Regions from separate parts of the Homo sapiens genome. Here all the other regions are linked to region 1. Evidence: fine-mapped expression QTL. A gene starts in region 1. Each other region holds a variant in brackets. All regions are shown on one strand. Distances are from middle to middle. Region 1 holds the start of CLPB (ClpB family mitochondrial disaggregase). Region 2 holds the start of PHOX2A (paired like homeobox 2A). Region 3 overlaps CLPB (ClpB family mitochondrial disaggregase).

Evidence for each region. PIP is the estimated chance that this variant, and not a neighbour inherited with it, causes the effect.
Region 2: its variant is fine-mapped to the expression of CLPB in whole blood (INTERVAL, PIP 0.95).
Region 3: its variant is fine-mapped to the expression of CLPB in whole blood (TOPMed, PIP 0.96).

The regions. Positions count from the first base shown.
Region 1 is chr11:72,431,242-72,441,919 of GRCh38, reverse strand. It overlaps CLPB (ClpB family mitochondrial disaggregase), which reads left to right and starts at 7,389. Exons shown (of 16, transcript NM_001258392.3): 1 at 7,389-7,848. The coding sequence starts at 7,446. RefSeq lists a silencer at 4,977-5,026 and enhancers at 6,438-7,244, 7,308-7,767.
Region 2 is chr11:72,238,334-72,249,011 of GRCh38, reverse strand. It overlaps PHOX2A (paired like homeobox 2A), which reads left to right and starts at 4,836. Exons shown (of 3, transcript NM_005169.4): 1 at 4,836-5,224; 2 at 7,723-7,910; 3 at 8,814-9,935. The coding sequence starts at 5,008. The coding sequence ends at 9,263. It overlaps INPPL1 (inositol polyphosphate phosphatase like 1), which reads right to left. Exons shown (of 28, transcript NM_001567.4): 28 at 9,865-10,678. The coding sequence ends at 10,659. RefSeq lists a silencer at 8,964-9,133. The variant AT/T (reference allele first, on the strand shown) is at 6,188.
Region 3 is chr11:72,281,509-72,292,186 of GRCh38, reverse strand. CLPB (ClpB family mitochondrial disaggregase) reads left to right here. Exons shown (of 16, transcript NM_001258392.3): 16 at 1-6,692. Among named protein-coding and RNA genes, the nearest start is that of PHOX2A, 43 kb to the right of the region's middle. The variant C/T (reference allele first, on the strand shown) is at 2,546.

The DNA of each region.
Region 1 (10,678 bases):
AAGCTTGCTTGCAAGTATGAGAGAATCTAAGGAAGTGGTTACATGGCAAAGACCCAAGAGTTTTTTCCAGGAGCTGAGAGGTTCTCAGCTGCTGCTGGCTAGCAATACAGCCTCAGTCCCACAGCTGCTAGGAAATGATTTCAACCAACAGTGTAAGGCAGCTTGAAAAACTACCTTTGCCTGGTGGGCATGGTGGCTTATGCCTGTAATCCCAGCACTGTGGGAGGCCAAGATGGGTGGATCACCTGAGGTCAGAAGTTCGAGACCAACCTGTCCAACATGGTGAAACCCTGTCTCTACTAAAAATACAAAAACATTAGCTGGGTGTGGTGGCGTGCACCTGTAATCCCAGCTACTTGGGAAGCTGAGGTAGCAGAATCATTTGAACCTGGGAGGTGGAGGTTGCAGTGAGCTCAGATTGCACCACTGCACTCCAGCCTGGACAACAAGAGTGAAACTCCATCTCAAAAAACAAAAAGAAAAACTACCTTTCCCTAATTGAGCCTCCAGATGTGAATGCAGCTGGCCGACACCTTGATTTCAGACCCAGAGCAGAGCATAGTTAGAATATGCTAGACTCCAGACCCATAGAAACTGTGAGATATTAGATGGCAATTGTTTTAAGCTGCTCAGTTTATGGTGCTTTGTTTTGCAGCAATAGAAAACTAATACAAATAATAATATAAATCAGTTATCTGTAGAATATCCCTCAATATGTGTTTGTCTGATGTTTTCTCATGTTTGGAATGAGGTTATATATGCTTGATGAGAATGAACAAAAACGATGTGTTCTTCCCAGTGCATCATATCAAGGGATTCATTTTGTCTGTTGTGTATATGTCTTATTACTGGTGATATTTACCTTTGATCATGTAGTTAAATTGGTGTCTGCCAGGTTTTCCCCACTGTAAAGTTTTTGTAGTTCATAATTATCTTGCAGGAAGTACTTTTTTTTTTGAGAGGAAGTCTCACTCTGTTGCCCAGGCTGGAGTGCAGTGGCGCAATCTCGGCTCACTGCAACCTCCACCCCCCGGGTTCAAGTGATTCTCCTGCCTCAGCCTTCCGAGTAGCTGGGATTACAGGCGCCTGCCAGCACGCCTGGCTAATTTTTGTATTTTTAGTAGAGACAGGGTTTTACCATCTTGGCCAGGCTGGTCTTGAACTCCTGACCTTGTGATCCACCTGCCTCAGCCTCCCAAAGTGCTGGGATTACAGGCGTGAGCCACCGTGCCCGGCTGCAGGAAGTACTTTTGAGACTATATAAATTCTGTTTCTCCTCCTTGTCACCCACTAATTTTAGTATCATCTATGGATCTTGCCTGAAATGTTTATTTTTATTTATGTTTTTAGAGACAGGGTCTTGCTCTGTCACCCAGGCTGGAGCACTGTGGTGCGATGAAGGCTTGCTGCAGCCTTGACCTCCTCGCCTCAAGCAATCCTTCCGCCTCGGCCTCCCAAGTAGCTGGGACAACAGGTGTGTGCCACCCTGCTCTGCTAATTTTTTTATTTTATATTTTTGTATAGACAGGGTCTCACTTTGTCGCCCAGGCTGGTCTCAAACTCCTGGCCTCGAGTGATCCTCCTACTGCCTTGGCCTCACAAAGTGCTGGGATTACAGGCATTAGTCACTACATGAGTCACTGTGCCCAGCCTGAAATTTGTATTACTCCAGTGTCTGCCTAGTGGTAATTCTCTATTTCTCTCTTTCTTCTACATTTATTGATTGAACTTCCACTGTAAGAAAGAGCTGCCTCGGGCCAGGCGTGGTGGTTCACGCCTATAATCCCAGCACTTTGGGAGGCCGAGGCGGGCAGATGACAAGGTCAGGAGATCGAGACCATCCTGGCTAACACAGTGAAACCCCGTCTCTACTAAAAATACAACAAAAAAAAAAATTAGCCGGGCATGGTGGCGGGCGCCTGTAGTCCCAGCTGGAGGCTGAGGCAGGAGAATGGTGTGAACCCGGGAGGCAGAGCTTTCAGTGAGCCGAGATCGCGCCACTGCACTCCAGCCTGGGCAACAGAGCGAGACTCCGTCTCAAAAAAAAAGAAAGAAAGAAAGCTGCCTCTTCCCTCATTCCTCCCCTATTTATCTATTTATTTATTTGATTATTTATATCATATTTGTTTTACTCTGTGGATCAAAACCCCATATGGTCATTACTTTTCAGTTAAATTGTTCCTACTTAGGTCATTATGAACTCCTTCACACTGGCTCCTGTGTTCTTTTCACAAGCCTGCATCTGGTTTTGAGCCTTTCCTAACTTCCTGGCACATACGATGTTGTTGACTCATTTTGGATTTTCTCTGCCCAGTCCTGAAAACAACCATTCTCCAAGGGTAACTGGTTTCTGGGTTATTGGAGAATGCTGTTTATGTCTGGGTGTTAGGTGTGTTCAATTTTTAGGGTGTAATTGCTTCTAGACCCTCCCAGAGGCTAGGTAATATATGTAATACACGAACCCATACATACTTACATATTTATATTTCTGTATTGATCTGTCTGTATCTATTTTTAAAAACCATGAGTTTTACAGCTGGGCATGGTGGCTCTAACCTGTAATCCTAGCACTTTGGGAGGCTGAGACAGGCAGATCATTTGAGGTCAGGAGTTTGTGACCAGCCTGGCCAACGTGGCAAAACCATATGGTCAATAACCAATTGAGACCAATCAGGCTGGTTCGAGACCAGTCTGGCCAACATGGCGAAACCCTGTCTCTACTAAAAATACAAAAGTTAGCTGGGCGGTGGTACATTGCTGTAATCCCAGCTACTCAGGAGGCTGAGGCAGGAGAATCACTTGAACCTGGGAGACGGAGGCTGCAGTGACCAAGATCGCGCCACTGCATTCCAGCCTGGATGACAGAGCAAGACTCCGTCTCAAAAATAAATAAAGTAAAAATAAAATTAAAGCCATGAGTTTATGCTGATACATCTGATTCCAATTCAATACCACAAGGTTCATTTTAGCTTTCTTTTTTTCCCTATTTATAACTTCTTTCTCCAACAGTGAAAAGCCCAGCTACTATCTATTTACTTATTTGTTTAAAAATGTGTGTGTGTGTTGTTGTTTTGTTTTCTTTTTCTGGAAAAGTTTTTCTCAGAAACCTATAGAATGTGTAGCACCAAATGGCCTCCAACTCCATGCCAGAGGCAGCTGACCACAGCAACTGCATTGATTCTTCACTTTCTGTCTCCTCCTAAACCCCATTCAGATATCCCCCAGTCACCTTCCTACAAACTAAAACTGGAGTTCTCTCTCTCCCAACCCAACAGTTAGAAGCTTAGGGCCAAGGTGGGGTCATTGGAACCTGATATAAATTTTTGCTTTCTGAGCAGACCAAAAGGAAGCCATCCTGCGTTGAAAATCTGTTAAAATGTGACCTAAGAGTTTTTTGTGTGTTTGTTTGTTTTTTGAGACGGAGTCGCCCCGTCGCCCAGGCTGGAGTGCAATGGCGCGATCTTGGCTCACTGCAACCTCCGCCTCCTGGGTTCAAGTAATTCTCCTGCCTCAGCCTCCTGAGTAGCTGGGATTACAGGCGTGTGCCACCACGCCCAGCTAATTTTTTGGATCTTTAGTAGAGACGGGGTTTCACCATGTTAGCCAGGCTGGTCTCGAACTCCTGACCTCAAATGATCCTTCCAACTCGGCCTCCCAAAGTGCTGGGATTATAGGCATTAGCCACTGTGCCTGGCCCTGGATTGGTTATTGACCATACAGAATTCACTCTGAGTCCCAGCTGATTCTAATGGGTGGGGTTTTTTTGTTTGTTTTAATTTTAGTTTATTTTTCTTTTTTTTGGAGACAGGGTCTCACTCTGTTGCCTAGACTGAAGTGCAGTAGTGTGGGGATCCTCCTGCCACAGCCTCCTGAGTAGCTAGAACTACAGGTGTACACCCCCATGCCTGGCTAATTTTTTATTTTTTGCAGAGACTGTGATCTCACCATGTTGCCCAGGCTGGTCTCAAACTCCTGCCCCAAGTGTTGGGATTACAGGCACGTGAGCAAGCACACACGACCCTAATGGGTGTTTCCATACTTCCTCACTACATCCCCCACTCAGAGATTGATAATTTAAGCTTTTCAGTATCCCTACCAAATACTGATAGTAATTAAACCCTTCCTTGAACCCCTCGCAGATGGTATCTGTGAAAATAAAATAAGAAAATCAATGGGGAAGTGCTTTGAAAATTATGCATTGCTAAGTAAACTGAAGGGCCCTGGGATGTGTCTGCAGTGAGAGGGTTTGAACTCTGCATCTGGTAATGGGAGCTTTCGGAGACTGCTCTTCCTGCTGTGACCACCCTAAGTTGGGAGACAGAAATGTTTCAAGAATACAGGGAAGGTGAAGTTGCTATAGTGAATGGGGTGGTTAACAAAATAATATGTGCTGAAAATCTCTCAAAACAGAAAGGTCAAAATGCTTTCATTATTGAGTGCTTTAAAAATGATTTAAAAATAGTTATTCAAGGCTGGGCACGGTGGCTCACGCCTGTAATCCCAGCACTCTGGGAGGCCAAGGCAGGTGGATCATCTGAGGTTGGGAGTTTGAGACCAGCCTGACCAACATGTAAAACCCCGTCTCTACTAAAAATACAAAAAAAATTAGCCAGGTGTGGTGACACATGCCTGTAATCCTAGCTACTCGGGAGGCTGAGGCAAGAAAAGCGCTTGAACCTGGGAGGCGGAGGTTGCGGTGAGTCAAGATCGCGCCATTGCACTCCAGCCTGGGCAACAAGAGCAAAACTCCATCTCAAAAAAAAAAAAAAGTTATTAAAGCCAGGCGCAGTGGCTCACGCCTGTAATCCCAGCACTTTAGGAGGCTGAGGCAGGAGGACTGCTTGAGCCCAGGAGTTCAGACCAGCTTGGGCATCATAGCGAGACCTAGTCTCTACCCAAATAATAATAATAATAATAATAACAAAAAATTAGCTAGGTGTAGTGGTGCCAGCTGTGGTCCCAGCTACTCAGGAGGCTGAGGTGGTGGGATGATCCCTTGAGCCCAGGAGGTTTCAGGTTGCAGTAACAACTGTACTCCAGCCTGTGTAACAGAGCGTGACCCTGTCTCAAAAAAAACCAAAAAAGTCGCTCATTCATTCCTGTCTTACTAACGGATGTGGAAATGAGAAGTTCCATCTTTGCCTGGAGGAAGTGTAGAATACACAGAGCAGAGAATATACAATGATAGCTACCATTTCTTGAAGACCTACTGTGAGCCAGGGACAGTGTTAGGGGCTTTCTACATATTATCTTATTTAATACAAGCAATCATCTTGAAGGCAGGAATTGATATCTTCAACAATGAGTAATTAACTACCAGAGAGGTAAAGGGAGTTTGTCCAAGGTCACCCATATAAATGCAAGAGTCAAAATTAAAATCCACGTCTGCCTGAATGCCAAAGCTCAAGTACTCTCCAACACTAATAAGGTGAGAGTAATCCATTCACTGAAAAAAATATTTGAGTGCCTCAGGCCGGGCGCGGTGGCTCACACCTGTAATCCCAGCACTTTAGGAGGCCGAGGCAGGTGGATCACGAGGTCAGGAGATCGAGACCATCCTGACTAATACAGTGAAACCCCGTCTCTACTAAAAATACAAAAAAATTAGCCGAGCATGGTGGCGGGAGCCTGTAGTCCCAGCTACTCGGGAGGCTGAGGCAGAAGAATGGCGTGAACACAGGAGGCTGAGCTTGCAGTGAGCTGAGATCGTGCCACTGCACTGCAGCCTGGGCGACAGAGCAAGACTCTGCTTCAATAAATAAATAAATACATAAAAATAAAAAAACTGAGTGCCTCTTTTGTTCCAGACATTGTTCTGAGTGCTAGTGATATAAAAGTGAAAAAACAAAGTCCTTGTCTCATGGGGCTCATGCTGTAGTGGAGAAAGACAATAAAAATGTAGTATGTCAGATGGTGATAAATGCTGTGAAGGAAAATTAGGATGGGGTGCGTAGGATTACTATTTTAACCAGAATGGTCAGGGAAGACTCTGATCATGTGAAGTCTGAGCAGACGTACAAGACTTGGAAGAAACAGAACTGGCACAAAGAAGAACTTCCTCCTTTGCCTACCTATGGGTTCAGTTTGGAAAAGAGGGGGCGGGATGGGAGTGCAGGTGTTAATGGAAACTATATGCTCAAAATCAGAAGACCTGAGCATTACTTTACTCCAGGTGATTTACTGGCAAATCTTTTCACCTTTGAGCCTCAATTCCCTTCACTGTAGACGGGAATAACAGTTCTTGCCCAGCTTCTCACACACAGCTGCCATGAGGATCAGATGAGATGACCCACTTGAAAGCCCTTTAAAAATAACACAATCAGGGCCAGGCGCAGTGGCTCACGCCAGTAATCCCAGTACTTAGGGAGGCTGAGGCAGGTGGGTCGCTTGAGGTCAGGAGTTGGAGACCAGCCTGGCCAACATGGTGAAACCCCGTCTCTACTACTAAAAATACAAAAATTAGCCAAGCGTGGTGGTGCGTGCCTGTAATCCCAGCTACTCGGTAGGCTGAGGTGGGAGAATCGCTTGGACCAGGGAGACGGAGGTTGCAGTGAGCCGAGATGGCGCCACTGCACTCCAGTTTGGGCGGCAGAGTGAGATTCTGTCTCAAAAAAAAAAAAAAAAAAAAGACCGGAAGTCAACTCTTCAAATAAAATGTATTCCTATCTCAGGTGCAGTAGTTACCCTAAACATCTTTTTGAAAGGCCGCCCAGGCTGAAAAAAGAGATAGGCTAAACTAAATAAGCATAAGTTTCATAATATGCCTCTGCTGAAGATTCTTGGGTAATTTACACCAGTCAAAAATTGTGGGCCGGGCGCGGTGGCTCACGCTTGTAACCCCAGCATTTTGGGAGGCCGAGGCGGGCGGATCGCCTGAGGTCAGGAGTTAGAGACCAGCCTGGCCAACGTGGTGAAACCCCGTTTCCACTAAAAATACAAAAATTAGCTGGGCATGGTGGCGGGCGCCTGTAATCCCAGCTACTCGGGAGACTGAGGTAGGAGAATTGCTTGAACACAGGAGACGAAGGTTGCAGTGAGCCGAGATCGCGCCACGGCACTCCGGCCTGTGAGACAGAGCGAGACTCCGTCTCAAAAAAAAAAAAAAAAAAAAAGTGTGTCGTGTGCTTCAACTAAACTAGGAAAGAAGTCTTGGGATTCTAATCTTTAACTCTAATCGCCACGCCCCTTCACCCGAACTCTATTTCCCAATATGCCCCGGGCTTCTATAATCCCGCAGTCATTGTGACGCAATCCCACAGCCTTCTGGGAAACGTAGTTTATTTATTCTCCAGCTGGGGAAAGGCTTAGGGCTGTGGACTACCTCTCCCGTGAGGTAGTGCGCAACTCCACCCTGTTCGCGGCGTCTTCGAACGCGCCGCGGCAGCCATGTTGGACGTGGTCAGCACAGGGGCCGGCACCACGGGGTTATCGAAGCAGCTGTCAAGATGCTGGGGTCCCTGGTGTTGAGGAGAAAAGCACTGGCGCCACGGCTACTCCTCCGGCTGCTCAGGTCCCCAACGCTCCGGGGCCATGGAGGTGCTTCCGGCCGGAATGTGACTACTGGGAGTCTCGGGGAGCCGCAGTGGCTGAGGGTAGCCACCGGGGGGCGCCCTGGAACATCGCCGGCCTTGTTCTCCGGACGTGGGGCAGCCACCGGGGGGCGCCAGGGAGGACGCTTCGATACCAAATGCCTCGCGGCTGCCACTTGGGGACGCCTTCCTGGTCCCGAAGAAACACTCCCAGGACAGGACAGCTGGAACGGGGTCCCCAGCAGGGCCGGACTGGGCATGTGCGCCCTGGCCGCAGCGCTGGTGGTTCATTGCTACAGCAAGAGTCCGTCCAACAAGGGTGATTATGAGATCTGGGTTTGAGGAAGGGAGAGGCGGGAAGATTGTCCTAACTTCGTATCTTAGGAGGGTGGGAGGTACTTATAGGTTTAGATCCTTAGAGCCTAAGTCTTGGAGGGACTCAGACATCATCTGGTTACAGGGGCAGGGTGTTGCCCTAGAGACCTCATCACCTCGGAGTTGTATAATCTCGTACCATAGATCCGCTTCCCCTCTCTGGGCATCATTTTATCCATCTGTACAATGGGGATATTGGACTAAACATCTAATATTATAGCATGGTCCCCTTATGTTTCTCATATTCTGCCTGGTCCAATTCCTCTTTCCTGAGATCTCCAGGAAACGGAAATTATGGGGTGTTTTAAGGGCAACCGCCAGATGGTTTAGAGAAGTTGCCAAACCGCTCCCCCCTACCCCCCGCCACCAAAGGTGCCAGAGTCAGGAACAACCTGACTCGGTTCTAATGCCAGCTTGACCTCAATTTATTTATTTATTTATTTATTTATTTATTTATTTATTTATTTATTTATTTCTGAGATGGAGTCTTGCTCTGTCGCCAAGCTGGAGTGCAGTGGCGCAATCTCGGCCCACTGCAACCTCCGCCTCCCGGGTTCAAGCTATTCTCCTGCCTTAGCCTCCCAAGTAGCTGGGACTACAGGTGCGGGCCACCACACCCAGCTAATTTTTGTATTTTTAGTTGTTGGTCAGGATGGTCTCGATCTCTTGACCTCCTGATCCACCCGCCTTGGCCTCCCAAAGTACTGGGATTACAGGCGTGAGCCACCGCGTCTGACCAATTTCTTTATTTATATAGTGAAGGATAGTTTCCCAACATTTTTACAGTACTGTTATTTTGACTCTTTTTGGAGTTCAGCGGCCTGAGTCTGTCAGTCTCAGGATTTTGCTGTGTCTGGTCTCACATGCTGTGAGGTGATCTTGCCATGTGGGATAGTTGGCAGGAGAAGGAAGGTGGATTCCTGGAGGCCCAAGGGCAACTGCTGGGGGACTGGCTGATCCCGATTAGCATCTCATTTGGATCCGGGGAGCTAAGCAGCAGCTGAGAGAGTGGACAGAGAGCCAGACTGATGACCTATGTGAGTCCAGCCATTCAGGTTCTTAGTTGTTCCTCAAGAAGAAAGACTGAGGCATGGTGTCCATAGATTCCATGCACCCCAAGCTCTGAGAATTTGGAGCAAGAGTTGGGGAGTAGGGAGTGCCTTGACTTTGATTCGTTTGATGTGGCCAATTGTAAAGGAAGGACTTTGGTCTGGGAGAGACAACACTGGGGATCTTGTTTTGGTTCTGTGTCTAACTCTCATTGTGAATTTGGACTTTTGCTTCTCCTCACGGGTCCTCTGTTTCCTCATCTACAAAATGAGGGTTTTGAAATAGACACTAAGGGCATCGAGCTTAGGCATGTTGTAATCCTATAACTTCCAGCATTTTTGGGGGTACCCACTGTGTGTCTAGTTTTAGGCTAGGTGTGTGGGAAGTCCTAACTTAACACAAAATCAGTCAAGGGGACAGTGCAGGCAGTTGGAATGTAGGGCTGGTGAGTGGTGCTATGTGTCGTTGGGGGATCAGAGGGCCAGTAGGGTCAGGAAAGCCTTTCTGGAGTATTGGAGACCCCAGAGGATGGGAAATTTGAACTTGAGTTCTGAAGGATGAAGTAGAAACGGAAAGGGGAGTGATCTTTTGAGCCCCATGAGAGCAGGAAATGTATCTTCTCTTTTGTTTTTTCAGGTTATACTAGCAACTTTCCCGAATACCTAGACATCATTTGCCCACCACAGTGTCTGGAACTTAGTAGGTGCTCAGTAAATGTGTGAGAGTTGGATTATATTCCATGCAAAGGCTTCAGGGAATGGAAATAACAGTTTCGGGGCACCATGGTGTGTGCAGGGGCCAGCAGAGCAGCCAGCTTGGTTGGAGGATAAGGTCTTTGGAATTAGATGAGAGCAGATGGAGTGGGGCCTGGATGCCAGTCAGGGGTGGGGTAGGTGAGGGTGTTGGAATTTCTTCTGTAGGCAGTGGAGAGTTATGGAAGGTTCATGAGCAGGGAATGTTCTGAGTCCAGTGTATTTGGTGAGGTCTTGCCTAAGAAGTTCCTGGGGGTTCCCAACTGGACTTTATGGCCTATGAACTCCAGCAAGAATACCAGGGTCTATTTACCAAAATAGATAATGGTCAAAGCCGTGACCAGTTCCTGCTGGAACTGACTTGCCAGCTACCCTGTCCCCTGACTTAGAGTTTTGACCCTCAGTGCAGTGTGGTAGAAACTGAACCCTTTTAGAAGCCAGGAGGCCCTGGTTCTTAGCTCATTCCTCACTCTGTAACCTTGTAGAAGCCACATTTTTTTCTGCAGAGTGAAGGGAGAGTGGATATAGCCATCTCTAAGGAAGGCTTGATCCCCTCCCAGCTGGTGGCTGTCTGAGCCATGCTTGGGTATGTGCTTTAGGTACATCCGGTAAGGTAAGTAGAAAGGACCTGTCCCTGGAATCTAGGCCAGGAGGCATCAATGTCTGAACCACAGGACTGGCTTTCATATGCATGATAAGGTGTATTGTACAGATAAGGAAACTAAGGCTCAGGAGGTTAGATAGGTGGGCTAGGTTATACAGCAAATAAGCGACAGAGCTGGGCTAGACCCCAGGTCTGACTGTCTCCAGATCCTGCTCTTTCACTCTACTCCAGTGCATTTGCTCATGAGTGAGTCTTTTGGCTGGACTGAGAGTTCCCTGAGTCAGGGCTGGCTATGAATCCGCCCACTGCCCAGCAGTGTAGCTCAGAACCAGGCTGGGCACAGAGGGCTCCATGTACCTGGTATTGAG
Region 2 (10,678 bases), 190 kb after region 1:
CAACCAGGCTCCAGAATTTGTCATCATTCTTGGAAGTGAAGCTGTCCTGCTCTGCAAGGAGGCTTCACAGCAAGATTGCAGTGACAGTGTTTCATGCTAGAGCATTTTTAGCTCCCCCAGGAGTACACACATTTTGGGGGTGGAGGCCTTAGTCAGGATGAGCTCCCCATATCAGACTCTCAACCACCAGCCGTTCTGGTATGAAGCCCTTGCAGAGTCCTTCCCACTCTGCCTGTCTCCTTCTTCTTTGATGGTGAGTTCTCAGGAAGCCTCTTTGCCTACCCCTATCACACATGCACACACACACGTGCACACATGTGCAGGCTGGCTTCCAAAGTTCCCTCACCTCTGCCATCTGAGAGACCTGTCTATATAGGTCTGAACCCAGTAGTGGACATGGTTTAAAACACTTCCTTGGAATGCTTCTCAGCTCCTATGCTGATCAGCAGATGCAAATGGATGCCTGCAGAGCAGAAACCCCAACTCCACATCCTGCGGCCTGGAAAGGCCAGTTCCTGCCCAGCTAACCCTGTAGCATCTTACAATAAAGCTTCTAATCACCACTACCATTTGTTTGATTACCTATAAATGTGTTAAGTCTTTAAAGATTGTATTGACCAGAACTCTTGGTTGCAAGTGTCAGAAGCCCAACCAAAAGTAGTTTAGACAGAAGGGAATTTATTGATTCAAGGACCAAACTGTAGAAATGGCAGGGCTTAAGCCAGGCATGGTGGCTCATGCCTGTAATCCCAGCACTTTGGGAGGCTGATGTGGGTGGACCACTTAAGGCCAGGAGTTCAAGACCAGCCTGGCCAACATGGTGAAACCCCGTCTGTACTAAAAACACAAAAATTAGTTGGTCATGGTGGCAGCGCCTGTAATCCCAGCTACTCGGGAGACTGAGGCAGGAGAATCACTTGAACCCAGGAGGCAGGGGTTGCAGTGAGCCGAGATTGCGCCACTGCTCTCCAGCCTAGGCAACAGTGGGAGACTCTGTCTCAAAAAGAAAAAAAAAAAAAGAAAAAAAGAAAAAAAAATGACAGGGCTAGATCATGGTCTCTGAGACAGCTGGAGCCAGGGCCTTAGGCAGCACTGGGACTCTGCCTCCCCTTATATCTCTGCTTGTCCCTGCATGCAAGCTTCAGTTGCTCCTAGTGCTGGTCAGCTTCACTGGGGAAGGGGTATGGCCACCTGCAAATTCCTCAGATGAGGAAGGACTTTCTTCCAGGCAGAGGTTGACTCGTGAGGGAAGAAGTTTCCTGTCCCTGGAGAGAGAGGAAATGAAGAGGGCAGGATGATCCCTCTTCAGAGAGTGCAGAGTGGAGTTAGGGGATGAGAATTTCTTCCCTGGAAGCAAGGGCAGGATTCTCCAACACGAAGATTTCAGATTAGCCTAATCCATTCATTTGACAAACAGATAAGAGAGGACCTATGACATGCAGAGTGATGGGCTAGGCACCACGGTAGGGCTGGGGAGTGAGTGAGAAACAAGATGACATAGTTCTGCCCTAAGACCTTGCACTGTATTGCAAACACTTCAGCAAGGTCATTTGAGTGACCAAAAGAGAGGAAGTACTACTATGGGACATGGCAGGGATGCCCAACCTAGTCTAGCAGCATCAGGGAAGGCTTCCAGGAAGCAATGATATCCAAATTGAGACCCAATGGATAAACAGGAGTCAACCAGGCTTGGGTTTGTTCGGTTTTGTTTGTTTTGTGTGGGAGGGCAGGGAATGAAATGGGCATTCCAGCCAGAGAGAACAGCTCTGAACCAAAAGATTAGTGTGTGATGGCTGCAAAGAAAGCCAAGAACAGGGGGAGGCAGGCTGGAGCGCTAGCACTGAGGACGTGGCGTGCCAGCAAGAGCTTGGACTTGATCATGAGGGCAATGGAGAGCCATGGGAGGGTCTGAGAGCAGTGATCCCATCTGATTTCCCAATTCTGAGATCCCTTGGACTCCCTGTAGAGTATATATTGAGGGGGAGAGGTGCACCTCACACACCAGGAGGGATAACTTTTTGAAGCAGTTGAGCTGTCAGGTCTCAATCTCTACAAGTTTAGACCTAAAAAGTCATTTGAGAAAAACAGAAAATAGCAAGTGTTGGCAAGGATGTGTCAAAATTGGAATACGGATGCATTGCTGGTGAGAATGTAAAATGGAAAAGCCTCTGTGGAAAACATTGTGGCAGTTCCTTGAAAAACAAAAAGAGAATTACTGTATGATCCAGGAATTCCACTTCTGGGTATATATTGAAAAGAATTGAAAGCAGATACAAATATGTTAGGCAGATATGTGTACACCCATGTTCATAGCAGCATTATTCACAACAGCTAAAATGTGGAAGCAACCCGAATGTCCACGGATGGATGGATGGATAAGGAAATGGGATATATAAAAGGAGTTATGCCAAAAAGACAAATACTGGGCTGAGTGTGGAGGCTCACACCTGTAATTCCAATACTCTGGGAGGCTGAGGTGGGAGGATCGCTTGAGCCCAGAAGGTTGAGGCAGCAGTGAGCTATGATCCCACCTCTGCACTGCAGCCTGGGTGACAGAGTAAGAGTATCTCAAAAATAAGTAAGTAAACAGACAAATACTGTATGATTCCACTTATACGAGGTCCCTGGTCAAAATAACAGAGACCAGCCTGGGCAACATAGTGAGACCCCCATCTCTACAGAAGATTTAAAAATTAGCTAGGCATGGTGGTGTGCACGTGTAGTCCCAGCTACTCAGGACGCTGAGGCGGGAGGATCGCCTGAGCCAAGGAATGCAAGACTGCACCATGATCTCGTTGCTGTACTCCAGCCTGAGTGACAGAGTGAAAGACTGTCTGAAAAAAAAAAACACAAAATCATAGGGACAGAAAGAGGAATGGCGGTTTGCAGGTAGGATGGGGAAATGGAAGGTGTTGTTTAACGGGTAGAGTTTTGATTTTACAGGATTCAAAGAGTTATGGAGATGGATGTATTAATACATAAATATGAATGTATTTACTACCACAGAACTATAGCTCAAAGTGGCTAAGATGGTAAATTTTATGTTATGTGTATTTTGCCACAATAAAAACATTTGACAAGAGGTAATTTGAGAAACCTCAAAGAAATCCCCTGGCATGGAGTGGTTCCGGAGATTGGGGATAGAGAGTCCTCCTGGGAAGCCCAGAACGGATGATGGGGGAAGGATTACCTGAGGAGAGGCGCACTCCCCTCTGTCCTGACAAACTTGGGGAGAATTCCAGGAGTCCTTCTATCAACCCCCAAGGACTTCAGCTGGAAACAAAGACACGCCCTTCCCGCGGCTTCTCCATGGGTCTAGGACTCCCCATCTACAAGACCTGCCAAGATCGGTGGAAGAGGCTGGGGGTTGAGTGGACGAGCTGCCCAACCCAGCTCAGGAGCGACGGAAAAGTTATCTGTTCCCTTCTCTTGGTAAGGATTCTGAATGTGTCCCGCTGTCCCACAGCACGAGGGAGCTGGTGACTGAATCTGTGCAGGGATGTCTGGGCCAGGTGCAGACTGAGTCTAGGTGGTTTCCCTGGAGAAAAAAAGCGGGGGGCCCTGGAGAACAGGGGTAAGAGACTGAAGAACAATAAAGAGGTCACGGGGTACGTTCCCTTTCTGACATCCATCGCATCCTGAGCCCAAGGTCACAGGAGAGGGTCGCATACTGCAGATGGAGCTGAGGGAACGGGGGGAGAGGCAGGCGGGCCCTGAAGGTGCAAGGTCGTGTGGGCCTCGGGACAAGTCAGGGTAGAGGGACCTGGCTCCCACGACCCTCCCTCTCCGCAGCCCCGTGGAGGCCGCACCCCAGAGCCTCCAGCATCATCCCTGGGCCCCTCTGCGCTCCAGCCCTCGTGTCTAAGCTCCCCGGAGGCGTTTTCTCTCCGCTCTCAGCCTCTGCTCCCGCGCTTGTGGCTGTCCCTGGCCCTGTCTCTCTCAGACTGTCCCTGGGCATATGTGTCTGTCTCACGATTCCTGCCTCTGTTTTGTCTCATCCCTCCCTTGCTCTCCACCGCAGTCCTGGTTGCCGTCCATGTCTCATCCCGACCCCTTCTGTCTCCATGCCTCCCTCACTCTCTTTCTCGTCCCCCTGTCTCCCTGTCTCCTCTTGTCTCTCTCTTAACCTCATCTCCTGTCTCTGCCCTGTCCCCGCTCCATCCTGTCTCTCTCTTACCCTCATCTCCTGTCTCTGCCCTGTCCCCGCTCCATCCTGTCTTTCGCTGTGTATGTTCCGTCCTTGTCTCCCTCTGTGTACCTGTATCTCTTGTCCCTGTCTCCATCACTGTTTCTGCCCCTTTCTCTCCCGGTCTCTGTTTCCTCTGTCTATCCACGTCCCTTCCCTGTCCCCATCCCAGGCTCCGTCTCTTCCCGGTCTCCATCCCCCTTCCTGGGCCGCCTCCGCAGTCTCCGCCGGGATGGGACCTCGCTGGGGGCGGGGCTGAGGGGCCAGATCGGAATAACTCGGTTATCAGAGCGAATTGAATTAACTTCTTCACACGAGCGCCGCCAGGCCTGCCTCCCCTCCCTTCCGCGGGGCCGCAGGTGGGGAGGCCCGGGAAAAGGGTCGGGACCCTCTGGCCTCGGACGCTGTGTAGAGACCGAAGGTCTGGTCCGGATTGGGGCAGGATAGGGACTCCGGGGATAGGGTCCCGCGCATCCCAGCTCCACACCTCTGAGCCCTAAGACGGCGGCGGGGACCCTTCGGGGTGGGGGTCGGGGCGGCTTTGGGCGGTGTCTGGGCCTCCTAGGCCCCGCCCCTTCGGAGCTCGCCCCGCCCCGCCCCCCTCCGCGGGGTCCTGCGCGTTAAAAGGCGCGCGGGCCGGGCTGGCTGCACTTGCGTTGCACCCGGGCTGAGTGCGGCCGCGACGGGGCGGGCGGACTCTCGGGCGCTCAGAGCTGGCCTCGGGTCCTCGGAGCCTGGCGCTCGAACCTCCCTTCCGACCTCCACCCGGACCCCGACCCCGACCCGGCCTGGCCCGGCCCCCGCCCCCGCCCCCCGGGCCGATGGACTACTCCTACCTCAATTCGTACGACTCGTGCGTGGCGGCCATGGAGGCGTCCGCCTACGGCGACTTTGGCGCCTGCAGCCAGCCCGGCGGCTTCCAATACAGCCCCCTGCGGCCCGCTTTCCCCGCGGCAGGGCCGCCCTGCCCCGCGCTCGGCTCCTCCAACTGCGCACTTGGCGCCCTACGCGACCACCAGCCCGCGCCCTACTCGGCAGGTGAGCGCAGCCCCGGCCCAACCCTCCCTCCAATTCCTGCAGAATCCCTGGGCCCGCTCGCCAAGTGAATGCGACTGTCCCCCTCAGCCGCCCCCATTCCTGCCTTGGCCAGACCCTCCAATGCCCCGAGAGACCCCCAGAATACGAGGTTCTCCTCCGCAGGAATGAGCCTCACCCTCTCATCTCTCCTGTTCCTTTTTCTCGTTGCCAAATCTCTGTCTCGTGCCCTTCAGGTCAAGGAAATATATCCCCATCCAGCTCTGGGCCCCTTACCAGGCCTTCCCCTCACCACCTGCAAAGACTGACCACTAAACCTCTACAAGCGCTGGATCTTTGAAAAAGGCTCCCAGCCCAGCCCTATCACCACTTATCACCCCACCCCATCACCGCTGCCCCACGAGATGCATGACCCCCAGCAAGGACCTCTCCAGGCAGCTGAGCTGCCCAGACGGGAAGCTTCCTAGAGCTCGCGTGGCCATCAGGCCCCTCCTGCCCTGTCTTGGACCCACGCTGCCTGGGACCGAACCCTTCTGTAGCCACCAAAACCAGATCCCGTAGCCCGCAATAAAGGGGCCCGGGTTTTTAAGCCACTTGTATTTCCCCATTCCCCCAGACTCTCCCAGCTAGAGTTCTGTAGAACCCGGAAGCAGCTCCTGCATCCCCAAGACTTTAGATCCAAGTCCCTGTCCAAACCCTCAACCTCACTGAGCTTCTCAGTCATCTCAGCCCTCTGATTAGAGTCCCAGCCTGCCCTATGTAATCTTATCGCCTTCCCTCCTGGGAAGACTGCCGGGGACCCAAGTAGAAGACTGGGGCCTAAGGGCCAGGCGCGGTGGCTCATGCCTGTAATCCCAGCACTTTGGGAGGCCAAGGCGGGTGGATCACTTGAGGTCAAGAGTTCAAGACCAGCCTAACCAACATGGTGAAACCCCATCTCCATTAAAAATACAAAAAAAAAAAAAA[AT/T]TAGCTGGGCATGGTGGCCCACGCCTGTAATCCCAGCTACTTGGGAGTCTGAGGCAGGAGAATCGCTTGAACCTGGGAGGCAGAGGTTGCAGTGAGCTGAGACTGTGCCATTGCATTCCAGCCTGGGTGACAGAATGAGACTCGGTCTCAAAAAAAAAAGAAGAAGAAGAAGAAGAAGACTGGGCCCTAGGCTGGGGTTTGGGGAAGAGATACGAGAAATGAGAACCTGGATTTGGAGAAATGAGGCCCAGGGTGGGGAGATTGGGTACCCTGAGCCAGATGAGGGTAGGGATTGGGAAGAGGGGAGACAGCCTCCAGAGATACAGGGTTTTGAGACCAGAGAGATGGGGATAAGGTACAGAGAGATGGGAGCAGAGATGGAAGCACTGGAAATCCTAGGAGAAATGGGGACTCAGGGTTGGGGAGATAGAGATAAGTATCAGGCGATGGGGACCAAAGAAGATTAGAAATAGAGATGACGAAGATAAGAATACAAATGGGGTGCTGGAGACAAGAATCAGGGGAGATGGAGGCCTGGATGGGACAAAGATGAGATTGGAGACCCCTGGTGAATATGAAGACTTAAACCAGGGTTACAGACAGGGAAGGGAAGTACTGTCAGAAACACTACCTATGGGGCAGTGGAGACTGGGATGGGTATAGGAAGAGAGTTGGGGGGCAGTGTTGGCTTTGGAGGAGATGGGACATGGAGAAGGTGCCTGGGGAGGAAGAAGGAGGGCAAAGAGAAGATGGAGGAAGTCTTCTCAATGGGCGCAAAGAGAAGATGGAGGAAGTCTTCTCAATGGGCACAAAGAGAAGAGTGGCTGAGAAATGGAAAGTTGAAGAGAGATTCAAATGGAGGAAGATTAGGAAGAGGAGAGGGGGACATCTAGGGGAGAATGGGGGTCAGGGGAGTGGGGCAGAATTGAAGAAATGAGGCTTGGGAAGGGGAGAGGTGGATGGGTGGAGGGAGCCAAATCTGTATACAGCTGAGAGCCGGTGGGAAGGCTGGTGGTAGGGCTGAAAGGAGGGCCGGTGGGAGGGTCTCTGTTGCAGAGCCTTGGCCCAGAACTGGTTAGTGGGAAGACTGGCAATGCTGATGAGACCTGACAGACATCCAGGGCCAGGGTAGACAGAGGGGACAGACGGGCTGAGAGACAGACAGGAGGGAAGGGTCGGAGGCACGGTTGAATGGGGGTGCAGGGGGAGATGGAGGGAACAGGGCTTGGGAGGAGGGCGACGACGGGGGTGGGGTGGGGGAGGGAGTGTCTTGGCTGGAGTATTGGATTATGCTTTCCCCTTGGCCGCTCTTGGGGCTCAGGTCTCCCTGATCTCCCTCCGCCTTTATCCCGCCGGCTCCATTGAGTAATAGGGAGGACGCTCGGCCCCAGGCTGCCGGGACCAAGACGAGGGATCAGGCCAGGGACGGGGGAGGCGTGTGATTCCCCCGGAGCTGGACACAACGGGTTGAACTCTGCTTCTCACTCCCCCATCCTTTTTGCCCCCCCCCCGGCCCCCCTGCACACACCCGCAGTGCCCTACAAGTTCTTCCCAGAGCCATCCGGCCTGCACGAGAAGCGCAAGCAGCGGCGCATCCGCACCACGTTCACCAGCGCGCAGCTCAAGGAGCTGGAGCGCGTTTTCGCTGAGACCCACTACCCCGACATTTACACGCGTGAGGAGCTGGCGCTCAAGATCGACCTCACTGAGGCTCGCGTGCAGGTGCGTGTATGCACGTGTGTGTACGAGAGTGCGCATGGAAGGAGGTGTGGGAGCTTAATGTCTAACACCTGGGGGTAGGGGAATACAGGCAGATGCAGCCCGAAGGCAGGGCGCGGTCCCAGGGTGCTTGGGCAGCTACGGGAGGCAGCAGGGCCCGGACTTGGAGGCCCTTGGGAGACCCGATCTGTTTAGCTCCAGGCTACCTCCGCTCTGTCTCCCTCTTAGGGCAGAAAGTTCCGAGTGATGCTTGAGAAGCCAGGAGGGAGGCCGAGGGGCTAGAGGGGGAGACCCAGGGGACCTCAGGGCCGAGCTGAGGAGGAGAGGGGGCAGGCCAGTCAGCACCCCTGGGGTTCCCTACCCCGGCGCTGCAGCTTTGAAAACCCGGAGCCCGGGAGGCTGAGTTTGTGGCAGGCACAGGGCCGAAGAGAGCCGGGCTAGAGCAGACTGTTGTCTATTTGTACAACTCCGTGTACAGATGTTCAGTTGGCCCGCCTTGACTGGATGCCCTAGACAAAAGGTTTACTGGCGCCCTAAACTGCTCTCCACGGCCCTGGAACACTCCAGGAGGGAAGTCCCAGAGCTTCCTAAAAGAAGGAATTGGGGGAAGAACTTAGAGTGAGGAGAACGAAGGCAGGGTCCCCTCCGGGAGACCAAGAGTGCTGGGAGGCAGCAGAGTCAGCGGGTGAGTGGATCCCAAGGGCAAGAACCCAGGGATCTGGAGGCAGGGGCCAGTGGAGCGCGGAGTGCAGCGGGCTGCGTGCGGAGGGCCGAAGGCCCCTCCAACTAGTAAGAACCCGGGCCCGGTTCTTTCCGAACCAGGATCTCACTCGAGCCTTGCGGCCGCGGGCTGACCCCGTGCGTTCTCCGACCCTCGTCCAGGCTGACTGGCCCCTGTGCCCGCAGGTCTGGTTCCAGAACCGCCGGGCCAAGTTCCGCAAACAGGAGCGCGCGGCCAGCGCCAAGGGCGCGGCGGGCGCGGCGGGCGCCAAAAAGGGCGAGGCGCGCTGCTCCTCCGAGGACGACGATTCCAAGGAGTCCACGTGCAGCCCCACGCCCGATAGCACCGCCTCGCTGCCGCCGCCGCCTGCGCCCGGCCTGGCCAGCCCGCGCCTGAGCCCCAGCCCGCTGCCCGTCGCACTGGGCTCCGGGCCGGGACCTGGGCCGGGGCCACAGCCGCTCAAGGGCGCACTGTGGGCCGGTGTGGCGGGCGGTGGGGGCGGCGGGCCTGGCGCGGGAGCGGCCGAACTACTTAAGGCTTGGCAGCCGGCGGAGTCCGGCCCCGGGCCCTTCTCCGGGGTTCTGTCCTCCTTTCACCGGAAGCCCGGCCCCGCCCTGAAGACCAATCTCTTCTAGCTGCCGGCCTCTGGAGGCTCCGAGCCTGCCCCCAGAGACGTCCCTGCCCCTCCAGGACCTGACAGCCCCTCCCATCCTGGCCACCCGCCTGGAAGTCCCCATCCGTCTCCACTCCCTACTGTCTCACCCCTCGGTGTGTCCTCCCCAACTTTGGAGACCAAGTCAGGGCCACTCTCGTCCTCACCCACCCTCTACCAGCAGAGCGGAGTTCTTTATACCGGGACCTCCTCCAGGAGAACCCCGGAGCTCCTTCTAGCTTGGCCTTCTTTGGATGCGGTATCACATGAGGCCTGTCCCTAACAGTGCCCTCAAAGTGAAGGTCCTCAAGGAGGATCGGCACAGCCCCCTTCCCTGGCTCTGCAGCGGCTGGGTCACCCCTTACGCTGGTGATCAGGAAAGCCCGCTGCCCCACCCCTCGGGCCCACCCGTACAGAGGCTGGTGGTCGCCGGGATAATTAATGACCACCGCCAATTCATCCCTCACGTGTCTCCTCTCTTCCCTAGCCCGTCTGGCACAGAGGGTGGACCTGTTAGAGGAGTGGAGGGGCTGCCTGGGGAATGGGACAGAGGGATTCTCTTTCCCTAATTTTTTTGGTTGTCCTTTTTCTTTGAAAAACTTGTAATTTATTGAAGTTTTACTCAATCCAAATAAAACTTAATTTATTGAAGACATCACGCCGCAACCCTTACGACTGCCCAGGAGGCTGCTTGCAAGACCCTGTCCCGGGCTGAGACCTGCGAGGAACCTCCCTCCCCCACCCTGCCGCCGTGCATCCCCAGAGCAGGGCAGCACAGACCAGGAGACAGTGAGAACTAAGCAAACTGGCACTTTATGGCTGAGATCCTGCCCCACCCCAACCAACCCCAATAATATTAAGGTGCTCTCCCTCCCCAGACCCACACAGAACAGTTTAAATAAACCCCAGCCCGGTCCTCGGGCTATTCCTTCATTTCCGGACGGACACCCGCCCCCACCCCCAGCGGGGGTGGGGAGGTCTTAGCGGAGCTCCTCCGCTGTGGTTCAGGCCCGGTGGAAGGCCGCAGAAACTGGTGAAAGTGGGGGCCCAGACGTACCCAAATGGACCCCCACAGGCACCCCTGGGGCTGGGAGGCGGGGTCCAGTAAAACAGGACAGCACCAGAGTAACCAGGGTCCTCGGTAACCATGGCAACTGACCTTCCGTCCTGAGCCTAAAAGGCGAGGGGCAGGATGCCCTAATTAGGGCATTGCAAATGATTGGGCAGCGGGGAATGCAGATCCCCAATAAATAGGCACCCCAATAAATAGGCAGAGAGATACTGCCCTGACCCTCATAACTTTTCAACCCTGGGGCCATAGCTGGGCCTTGGTAGCAGGGAGGGGCTCTGAGTTCACAGCTTCGTGGTGCCTCCGCTATCACTTGCTGAGCTGCAGGG
Region 3 (10,678 bases), 150 kb after region 1:
GAAGCATGTCCTAACAGTATGGTGGGTATGAGGCAGTCAGAATCCAGGGTGTGAGCTCCAGCAGATGCTTGGATCACTGTCTACCCCTCAGGGGCTGCTGCTCCCTACCTCACTGACTGCCTTTTTTTTTTTTTTTTTTTTTTTGAGACAGAGTCTCACTCTGTCCCCCAAGCTGGAGTGCAGTGGCGCGATCTCGGCTCACTGCAAGCCCTGCCTCCCAGGTTCACGCCATTCTCCTGCCTCAGCCTCCCGAGTAGCTGGGACTACAGGTGCCCACCACCACGCCCGGCTACCTTTTTGTATTTTTAGTAGAGACAGGGTTTCACCATGTTAGCCAGGATGGTCTCAATCTCCTGACCTTGTGATCTGCCTGCCTCGGCCTCCCAAAGTGCTGGGATTACAGGCATGAGCCACTGGACCCGGCCTGCTTTTCATTGTTTTTTACTTTTTGTTTTGAAATAATTTTAGACTTAGAGAAAGTTGCAGAAATAGTAGAAAATTCCCATGTATCTTTCATCTAGCATCTCCCAATGATTACATCCTACAAAGCCATACTGTAGTTTATCAAAACCAGGAAATTGCCGGGTGTGGTGGCTCATGCCTGTAATTCCAGCACTTTGGGAGGCTGAGGCAGGCAGATTACCTGAGGTCAGGAGTTCGAGACCAGCCTGGCCAACATGGTGAAACCCTGTCTGTACTAAAAATACAAAAATTAGCCAGGCCCGCTGGTGCCCACCTGTAATCCCAGCTACTTGGGAGGCTGAGGCAGGAGAATCACTTGAGCCCAGGAGGCGGAGGTTGCAGTGAGCTGAAATCACGCCACTGCACTCCAGCCTGGGCGACAGAGTGAGACTCCGTCTCAAAAAAAGAAAACCAGGAAGTTAACATTGATAAACTACTACTAACTAATCTACGGACATTCAAATTTTGCCAGTTTTCCCGATGATGTCCTTTGTCTGGTCCAGGGTCCCATATTGCATTTTGTTGTGGTGTTTCCTTCATCTCTGTCAGCCTGTGACAGTTTCTTGGTCTTTATCTTTCATGACCTTGACACTTTGGAAGAGTCCAGGCCAGTTATTTTATAGAATATTCCCCAGTTTTAGTTTGTTTAATGTTTTTACATGATATGATTGAGGATCTGCATTTTTGCCAAGACAACCACAGAAGTGATACTGTGCTATTCTTAGTGCCTCCTAGCGGAGGGTGGTGGTAACTTTTTGTTTTGGTTTTTTTTTTTTTTTTGAGACGGAGTCCCGCTCTGTCACCCAGGATGGAGTGCAGTGGCGCAATCTCGGCTCACTGCAACCTCTGCCTCCTGGGTTCAAAGTGATTCTCCTGCCTCAGCCTCCTGAGTAGCTGGGATTGCAGGTGCCCACCACCACACCCAGCTAATTTTTGTATTTTTAGTAGAGACAGGTTTTCGCCATGTTGGCCAGGCTGGTCTTGAACTCCTGACCTCAGGTGATCCACCCACCTCGGCCTCCCAAAGTGCTGAGATTACAGGCATGAGCCACCACACCTAGACTAGGTGGTGGTAACTTTGATCACATGGCTAAGGTGGTGTGTGCCAGGTTTCTCCACTGTAAAATTAGGAATTTTCCCTTTGAAATTAACAAGAATCTTCCACTTTGAAGCTATGTGAATGTCTTATTCTTAAAATTTTGCCTACTGATTTTCATTTCCATCATCAATGATTCTTGCTTATAACAGGTATTAATGTTATGCTTGCCTAATGGTGACTTTGTTTCATTATTTTACCTGTATTTATTAATTGGTATTCTACTATAAGGAAGAGCTGTCCCTTTTCCCCATTTATTTATTTGATAATTTATATCAGTATGAATGAGTGGATATCTGTTTTATTCTACAGGCTACAATCTAATGCTAACAGTTTATTTGGTTGCTCAAATTGGCTCAGATTTGGCCAGTGAGAACTCATTGAAGTTGGCACTGTGTTGTTTCGACATTGCCCCTGTCACTTTTTAAGCATTTTCTGGCACCACAAGATGTTTCAGGCTTCCTCACATTTTCCCTATCTCAGCCCTGGCATCAGTCATTCTCTAAGAAGCTCCCAGTTCCTTTTATTCCAGAAAAAAGGAACTTAGAAACCAAGTTGTTTCTTGATGCCACTGGAAACCAAGATCTGGACAGAATATATACTCCTGGCTAGAGTATCATTGGCGGAGTGTCATTGCTTGTAGGCCTGCTCAGCAGACAGAGCTAGAAAACATATATGTATATATGTTAAAACATGCAAATACAAGCACCTGAATTTATTATTCTATCCATCTGTATGTTATTAAAAACCGTGAGCCAGGTATGGTGGCTCGTGCCTGTATCCCAGGACTTTGGGAGGCCAAAGTGGGAGGATCACTTGAGCCCAGGAGTTCAAGACCAGCCTGCGCATCATAGCAAGACCTCATCCTCCAAACGTTTAAAAAATAAAAAATTAGCCAGGCATGGTGGTGCATTCCTGTAATCCTAGCTACGTAGGAGGCTGAGGCAGGAGGATCGCTTGAGTTCAGAAGGTTGAGGCTGTAGTGAA[C/T]TGTGATTGTACCACTGCACTGCAGCCTGAGTGACAGAGCAAGACTCCGTTTCATATTTTTAAAAATAAATAAAAATCATGAGTTTAGATACGGTTTTAATTCAATACCATAGGGTTTGCGACTGCCATTTTTATAACCTTACTATTCTTTTTCTGCTTTTTCTCCTGCTATCTCTGTTTCTGCTCCTTTCTATTTGATGTTTAGACTTCCCATAGAGGCTCTAGTTAAGTCAGCTAGTAACCAGCCTGTGTGCAGTATTCCTACTAGATAGAGGTCTTATGCCCGGCTGTCAGTCCGTTGGTTCAGTTAACTGTGGCCAGGAATACTAGGCATATAACTTAAAATCAGATAACTTTTATACAAGAAAAGCCAATGGCCACCTTCCTGAGAATAGGATAAGGAGACAGGGGTAGAACCTTAGATTCTAAGGAACCTAATTAAGAATCACTTCTGGCCGGGCGTGGTGGCTCATGCCTGTAATCCCAACACTCTGGAGGCCATGTAGGGGCAGATCACGAGATCAAGAGATTGAGACCATCCTGACCAACATGGTGAAACCCCATCTCTACTAAAAATACAAAAATTAGCCAGGCGTGGTGGCGGGCGCCTGTAGTCTCAGCTACTCGGGAGGCTGAGGCAGGAGAATCGCTTGAACCCGGGAGGTGGAGGTTGCAGTGAGCCGAAATTGTGCCACTGCACTCCAGCCTGGTGACAGAGCCAGCCTCCGTCTCCAACAAAAACAAACAAAAAAAGAATTACTTCTTCCAGAGATTCTCTGCCAGAACTCCTAGGTGGTGTTGGACCCATATCTTTTACTTCCATAGCATCCCAGGCTCAGCTCACTTGTCCTACTTGTTCTGTGTCTTCATCACTAGAATGTAAGTTCTAAGAGGGCAGATGCCAAGCTGTTCAGCCATTCACAGAACCTGGCACAGTGCAGGCATATGACAGATGTTCCTTTATTATTATACTTGGGTGAGTGGATGGGACCTGCAGCAAGTGCAGATCTTCTCAGTGGGCTCTGGAACAGAAAAGTATTGTTTGTTTGCTCAGCATATTTTTATTTGTCCCATGTTGCTGTGGCCAGGATTTGAGCTCTGAGACAATGCAGCAAGGTGAGACCCAGATTTCTTTTGTTTTGTTTTGTTTTTTGAGACAGAGTCTTGCTCTGTCGCCCAGGCTGGAGTGCGGTGGTGCAATCTTGGCTCACTGCAACCTCCACCTCCAGTTCAAGCAGGTCTCATGCCTCAGCCTCCTCAGTAGCTGGGACTACAGGCATATGCCACCATACCCAGCTAATTTTTTTTGTATTTTTAGTAAAGACGGGGTTTCACCATGTTTGCCAGGCTAGTCTCAAACTCCTGGTCTCAAGTGATCCACCCACCTTGGCCTCCCAGAGTGCTGAGATTACAAGCGTCAACGACTGTACCCGGCCCCAAATTCCTTATTGAGGATCCTAGAATACATGAGACCAGACTTGGAAATGAAAGTGTAACATGTTTATTGTTCAAAAAGAAAAACTCAAAGGTGTGTAGTGATTTTAAAATTTAGGGAAATTCCTCAATATAGTGAAAGAAGAAAAACAAGAAAGAAATTTAGGAAAGAAACACACTTAAACCATAAAAAATAGAAAATGGACCAATAAAGATAAAAGCTAAACTTAACAAGGTAGGAAAAAGAAAAAGAATAAATTAAAAAATTCTTTGAAAGCACCAATAAAATAGATAAAACCTCCTGAGCCTGATAAAAGGGGAAAGGAGCCAAAAAAATTAACAAAATTAGGCATGAGAAATTAGACATAACCATATATATTGAGGAATTGAGAAGAAGAATAGAACTCTATGGCAACAAATTTGAAATCAGAGGAAATGGATAATTTCCCAGCAAACACTGATCCTAGAAATAGTTTGAATAGGCCAGTTGGTTACCCAAGAAGAAACTGGAAAGGTGGTTAAAATTTTATCCTTTTTGAGCACCATAAGATGGTGAAAAATAAATAAAATTTTATCCTTGTAAAAGATTGATGGCCAGGCATGGTGGTGGCCCACACCTGTAATCCTAGCACTTTGGAAGGCCAAGGCAGGCAGATCACTTGAGCCCCGGAGTCTGAGACCAGCCTGGGCAACATGGCAAGACCCCACCTCTACTAAAAATACCAAAATTAGCCAGGCATGATGGTGCTTGCCTGTAGTCAACAGCTACTTGGGAGGCTGAGGTGGGGAAGATGGTTTAAGCCCAGGAGGCAGAGGTTGCAGTGAGCCAAGACTGTGCTGCTGCACTCCAGCCTGGGTGACAGAGCGAGACCATGTCCCAAAAATAAAAAATTGTTTTTAATTAAACTTTTTAATTGAAAAATATATGGGAAATTGTACAAATCACAAGTATGCAGCTCAGTGAATGATTACAAAGTAAACACACTCCTATAGCCATCACTCAACCCCCAAAATAGATGAGTTTTAACTATTATTGTACTCAAACCTGATAAAGTGCCAGAAAGAATGCTATAGCCTAATCTCACCTATGGCCATAGATGCAAAAATCCCAAATAAAATCAAGTTGAATTGCACACTCTGATTACATAAGGTTTATTTTAGCAATGCAAGGCTCAGTGTCAGGAAATTTATTAATTTATTACATCAAGAACTTAAATGTTATTTAAATGTCTAGAGAGTGCTAGTGTTGTTAAATTTTCTCATTTTGATAATTATACTATGATTACAGAAGAGAACGTCCTTGTTTTCAGAAAATGTAAGTATTTAGAGGTTAAAGGTAAACCTCTAATTTGGTTTGCCAGTATTTCAGATAACTACACACACACACACACACACACACACACACACGGAATGATAAAGCAAAAAGTAAGGTGTTGGCAAGGCATGGTGGCTCACACCTGTAATTCCAACACTTTGGGAGGCCCAGGCAGGTGGATCACCTAGGTCTGGAGTTCGAGACCAGCCTGGACAACATGGTGAAACCCCTCTTTATTAAAGTACAAAAATTAGCCGGACATAGTGGCACATGCCGGTAATTCCAGCTATTTGGGAGGCTGAGGCACAGGAATCCCTTGAACCTGGAGGCAGAGGTTGTAGTGAGCCTACATCACACCACTGCACTCCAGCCTGGATGACAGAGTGAGACTGTCTCAAAAACAAACAAAAAAAAGATGTTAACATTTGGGAAATCTGAGGGAATGATGTACATGAATTCTTTGTATTGTTTTTGCAACTTTTAAGTATAAAGTTATTTCAGGCCAGGCATGGTAGTGCATGCCTGTATACCCAGCTACTCGAGGCTGAGGTGGAAGATTCCTTGAGTCTAGGAGTATGAGGTTACAGTGAGCTATGATCATGCCACTGCACTCCAGGCTGGGTGGCAGAGTGACACCCTATCTCTTAAAAAAAAAAAAAAAAAAAAAAACAGGTGCAGTATCTCACACCTGTAATCTCAACAGAACACTGAGGGGTCAAGGCAGGTGGACTGCTTGAGCCCAGGAGTTCAAGACCAGCCTGAGCAACATGGTGAAACCCCATCTCTGCAAAAAATTAGCTGGTTGTGGTGGCATCCACCTGTGGTCTCAGCTACTTGGGAGGCTGAGGTGGGAATATAACTGGAGCTCAGGAGGTGGAGGTTGCTGTGAGATGAGATCGTGCCACTGCACTCCAGCCTATCTCCAAAAAAAAAAAAAAGGCTATAGTAGAAGCCTATTAGCATGGATAAGTGTCTGAATAAAAGATAACTGTACAAAAATCAATTGTTTTTTCTGTATTCTAGCAATAATCAACTAGAAACAGTATCAAAAGAAAAACATTCCATTTACAATTGCAACAAATAGGTATATATATATTTGCTCTTCTACACATAACCTATTTCTGGAAGGGAGCAGAACTGGGCAATTCAGGGACAGCAATGGAAGGGGAACACTGCTATGTTATTTTAAATACTTTTTAGTAAGCTTTGAACCATATTAATGTATTACCTGTTCAAAATTATACTTAATAAATTTAACAAGAAAACCATATTGAAGGGCATAAAAATAAGACCTGACAAGTGAAAAAACATCAAGTTTTAGAAAGGATGATTTAATACTAAAATATACATTTCTTAATATATAACTTAATGTAAACCTAATAAATAATTTAATACAAATCTAATTGACAGCACTTTTAATTAAATAATGTTAAGGTCATACTGCACTACTATGTCCAGAGGCGATGCTACATGGAGCTACTGTTTTCTGGGTCTAGCCTCTCAGGAAATAGTCATTACTACTTTTGCAATCCCATCTTGACAGTATGCAAAAATTAGGGAAAATGTAAATTTATTATTAACACACACCCTAAATACAATTATGAGAGAAAGGAAAGAGAAGGGTTACTGTCTGTGGCTGGAGTATAGTAGCTGTGTATGAGTGTGGAGAAGAGAGGAAATTGGTGGAAAATGAAGCTAGAGAGGCAAGTTTCCTGATTTCAAAGTGCCCTGAATGCCATGCTAAGGGAATGAAATGACCAGATTTGTGTTTTAAAAGACCCTTTGTTTGCATTGTGTAGAATGATTTGGGATGACTTCTGACCAATATACAACAGAGAGTAATTTCAGGCAAACTCTCTTCCACCTCAAACAGAAATATTTAATATATGTAATAAGACAAGAAAGTTTAATACACAACTAGACTTGAAACCAAGAATGGGAAATCCCAGCCATGTACAGTGGCTCATGCCTGTAATCCCAGCACTTTGGGAGGCCAAGGCAGGCAGATCACCTGAGGTCAGGAGTTCAAGTCAGCCTGGCCAACATGGTGAAACCTTATCTCTACTAAAAATACAAAAATTAGCTGGGTGTGGTGGCATGTGCCTATAATCCCACCTACTGGGGAGACTGAGGCAGGAGAATTGCTTGAACCAGGAGGCAGAGGTTGCAGTGAGCTGAGATCACACCACTGCACTCCAGCCTGGGTGACAGAACGAGACTCCGCCTCAAAAAAAAAAAAAAAAATCTTAAAATGTTCAGACATGGAGAGAAGACTAAAAAACATAAAGCAAGAAAGGGCAGTAAGAAAAAATAGTAGGTATATTTGAAAAAGAGGCTTCATTCTGAGTGATTTTCTCAGATTAATTTTCGTCTTTTATGCATTTCTACAATTTTTTCTAGTGTTGTGGTCCTAATTGACTTAGATATTAGATACTAGGAGTAATAAGGACTCATATTCTTAAAGGAGGAAGATTTGGGTCATCCACTGGACAACAAACCATAGTGGTCTAAGGCAGTGACACAGGACAAGGGGAATATGGAATGGTCAGGGAGGGCAGTCACCAGTGTGACCCTCCAGAGTCATGATCAGTTGCAGAGATAAGGAATATAGCCTCAACCACAATCCTGAAACCATTAGCCCACCATCCTCTTAAGAGTCTTCAAGTCTAATACCATCCCTCACAGATTCGTTATAGTAATCCCAAGAAGTCTGACCCTAACCTCAGTGGTCATCTACCACCACATCATCACATACTGCTTCCCTCTCCAGCCTTTCCACTGTGTCCTCCAGCACTTCCTTTCTAAAATCGGTAGATTCTTTTCTATATGCACCTTGTATTTGGAATATTTGCTTCACTTCTTCATCTTAACTGTCCCCTAAAGACACAGCTTACTCTGGCTGTCCCCTAAGACTGCTTACCTGTAGCCCTCTTAGGCAGAGGCTGCTTTCATTGTTAGACCCAGAAGTGAGCCTCCACTGCTCCTCCTCAATTAGTTCTCATCCTTCCTCTCAGCTCTTTTGAATTCATCAGTTCGACTATACCAGCCTTTCTCTAATTGTCCTGCCTACTGATCTCCCAATCACTGTGTCACAGGGAAGATTTTAGTACCTGTGTCACTTTCTCTCTTCCCCAGCACATGCCATCATTCTTGGTGGCTTCAACCTTCCATGAATGACCTAAAGCCCTGCTCTCCTCACATTTAGTGGTCTTTTTTCTGCCCCTGCCCACCTAAATCACCTATGTTATGGTCACAGTCTAAATTTCATCACAAGTAATTAAACTTCCTCCGAAGCCCCTATCCCTCTCTAGCCAATTATCTTTCATCTTCCAGTTCACTTATATGAACTGGAGTACATTCTGTGTGTAATTCTGTGACCTTATTGATACTTCTAGTCCATTAACCCCAACCTTCTTATTGCCCATCTGATCCCTCTTTCTCCAAGTCCACTTAAATCTCAGGGCCCATCATTATAATCTCTCTCTTCCAAATATTCTCAGAATCTTCAGACTTAACCCAACAACAATATAGATCTTCCCAAACCTGTATTTTCAAAAAAAACTTCACGCTACGTAATGCCACCTATCCCTTGCACAGAGCAATTTACTCTTACAAAGATAAACATAGCAAAGTCTCATCAGTTGCTACAACTTGTTCCATATCAAGGATCTCTGTGTGATGAGCATTCTTCCTCTGGTTCTATCATAACCCTATTTAGATATATTTTAACCTGTGGGCAAAATTGAGAAGTCAACCAACACAATCTACATAAAATACTAGGGCAAAGCGAGGAAAAGGAAGGAAAAAAGAGAAAAAAGTATGGCAGATTAAGCACTATATAGTATGCTCCCCACCTTAGACACCCCCCACACACACAAAAAAAAAGAGTAAAATAATTTTTTAAAAGGTAAATACCCAGAGGATTCTGGGAAGATGCCAGAGTAGGAAGCATCAGGAATCTGTCTCCCCACCCAGACAATTACAGTGGCAGAATTTGTCTGATGTAACTATTTTGGAGCTCTGGAGTCTATTGGAGTTCTGCGACTTCCCAGGGAAGGCTTAGATGATAAATTGTGGTTAATTTTGTTCAATTTCAACTCTTAGCACAGTAACAACTACCCATCCCCCACCTCCCAGCCCCATGGCAGGCAGCTGTGCACGTGTTCCTAGAACAGCTGGAATGCAGCTTCCAGGAGCCAGGAGGGGCAAAAGGACCCTGTCTTTCAAATACTTAGGATCTGTGCTCTGATTGCTACTTCTGATCACAGGCATAAAAAGAGGCAGAGACCATTATTCTTATACCTCCTCCCATTGTAGCAAGCCCCTCTGGCTGAAGTGCTGTCTAGGATTAATGTGCTTGCACCCTTCCCTCCCTCTTCATTTTTCTCTTTTACTTCCTGTTGGTAGCCAGACATTTAAGACTAGGATATTCAAAAGCAATTGCATATACTGGGAAATTTAGAAAGTAATCATAATGTCTTAGAGAAGATGCAGAGTTAGTAATTTTTGTATTTTTAGTAGAGATGGGGTTTCACCATGTTGGCCAGGCTGGGCTCAAACCCATGACCTCAGGTGATCCACCTGCCTCAACTTCCCAAAGTGTTGGGATTGCAGGCATGAACCACCACTCGCAGTCAACTTTAAATGTTAATGGGTTAAACTCTCCAATCAAAAGGCAAAGATTGTCAGAATTGATTTTAATAACATAATCCAACAATATGCTGTCTACCAGAGTCTCACTTTAGCTCCAAAGAGACAAATAGATTGAAAGTGAAAGGATGGAAAAAACATATTCCACGCAAATAGTAACCAAAAGAGAGCAGGAATGCTTATACCAACATCAGACACTATACACTTCAATTTTTTAAAGACATTTTTTAAAAATTTACAAGAGAAAAGAACATTATATTATTATTTTTTAAGACGAGGTCTCTGTGGCCTAGGCTGGAGTGCAGTGGCATGATCACAGCTCACTGCCATCTCAACCACCTGGGCTTAAGCGATCCTCCCACTTCAGCCTCCCAAGTAGCTAGGACCACAAACATGTACCACCATGCTCAGCAAATATTTTTAATTATTTGTAGAGATGAGGTATCACTATGTTGCCCAGGCTGGTCTCAAATTCCTGGGCTCCAGCTATCCTCTTTCCTTGGCCTCCTACACTGCTGGGATTACAGGCATGAGCCATGGGGCCCAGCCAAGAATATTATAAATACAAGGTTTAATACAGGAATAAGATACAACAATTATGAAAATTTATATACCTAAAAAGACCATCAAAATACATGAAACAAAAACTGGCAGAACTAAAGGGAGAAATAGAAAGTTCTACAATAATAGTTGGAGTCTTCAATACCCTACTCTCAGTATTAGATAGAAGAACC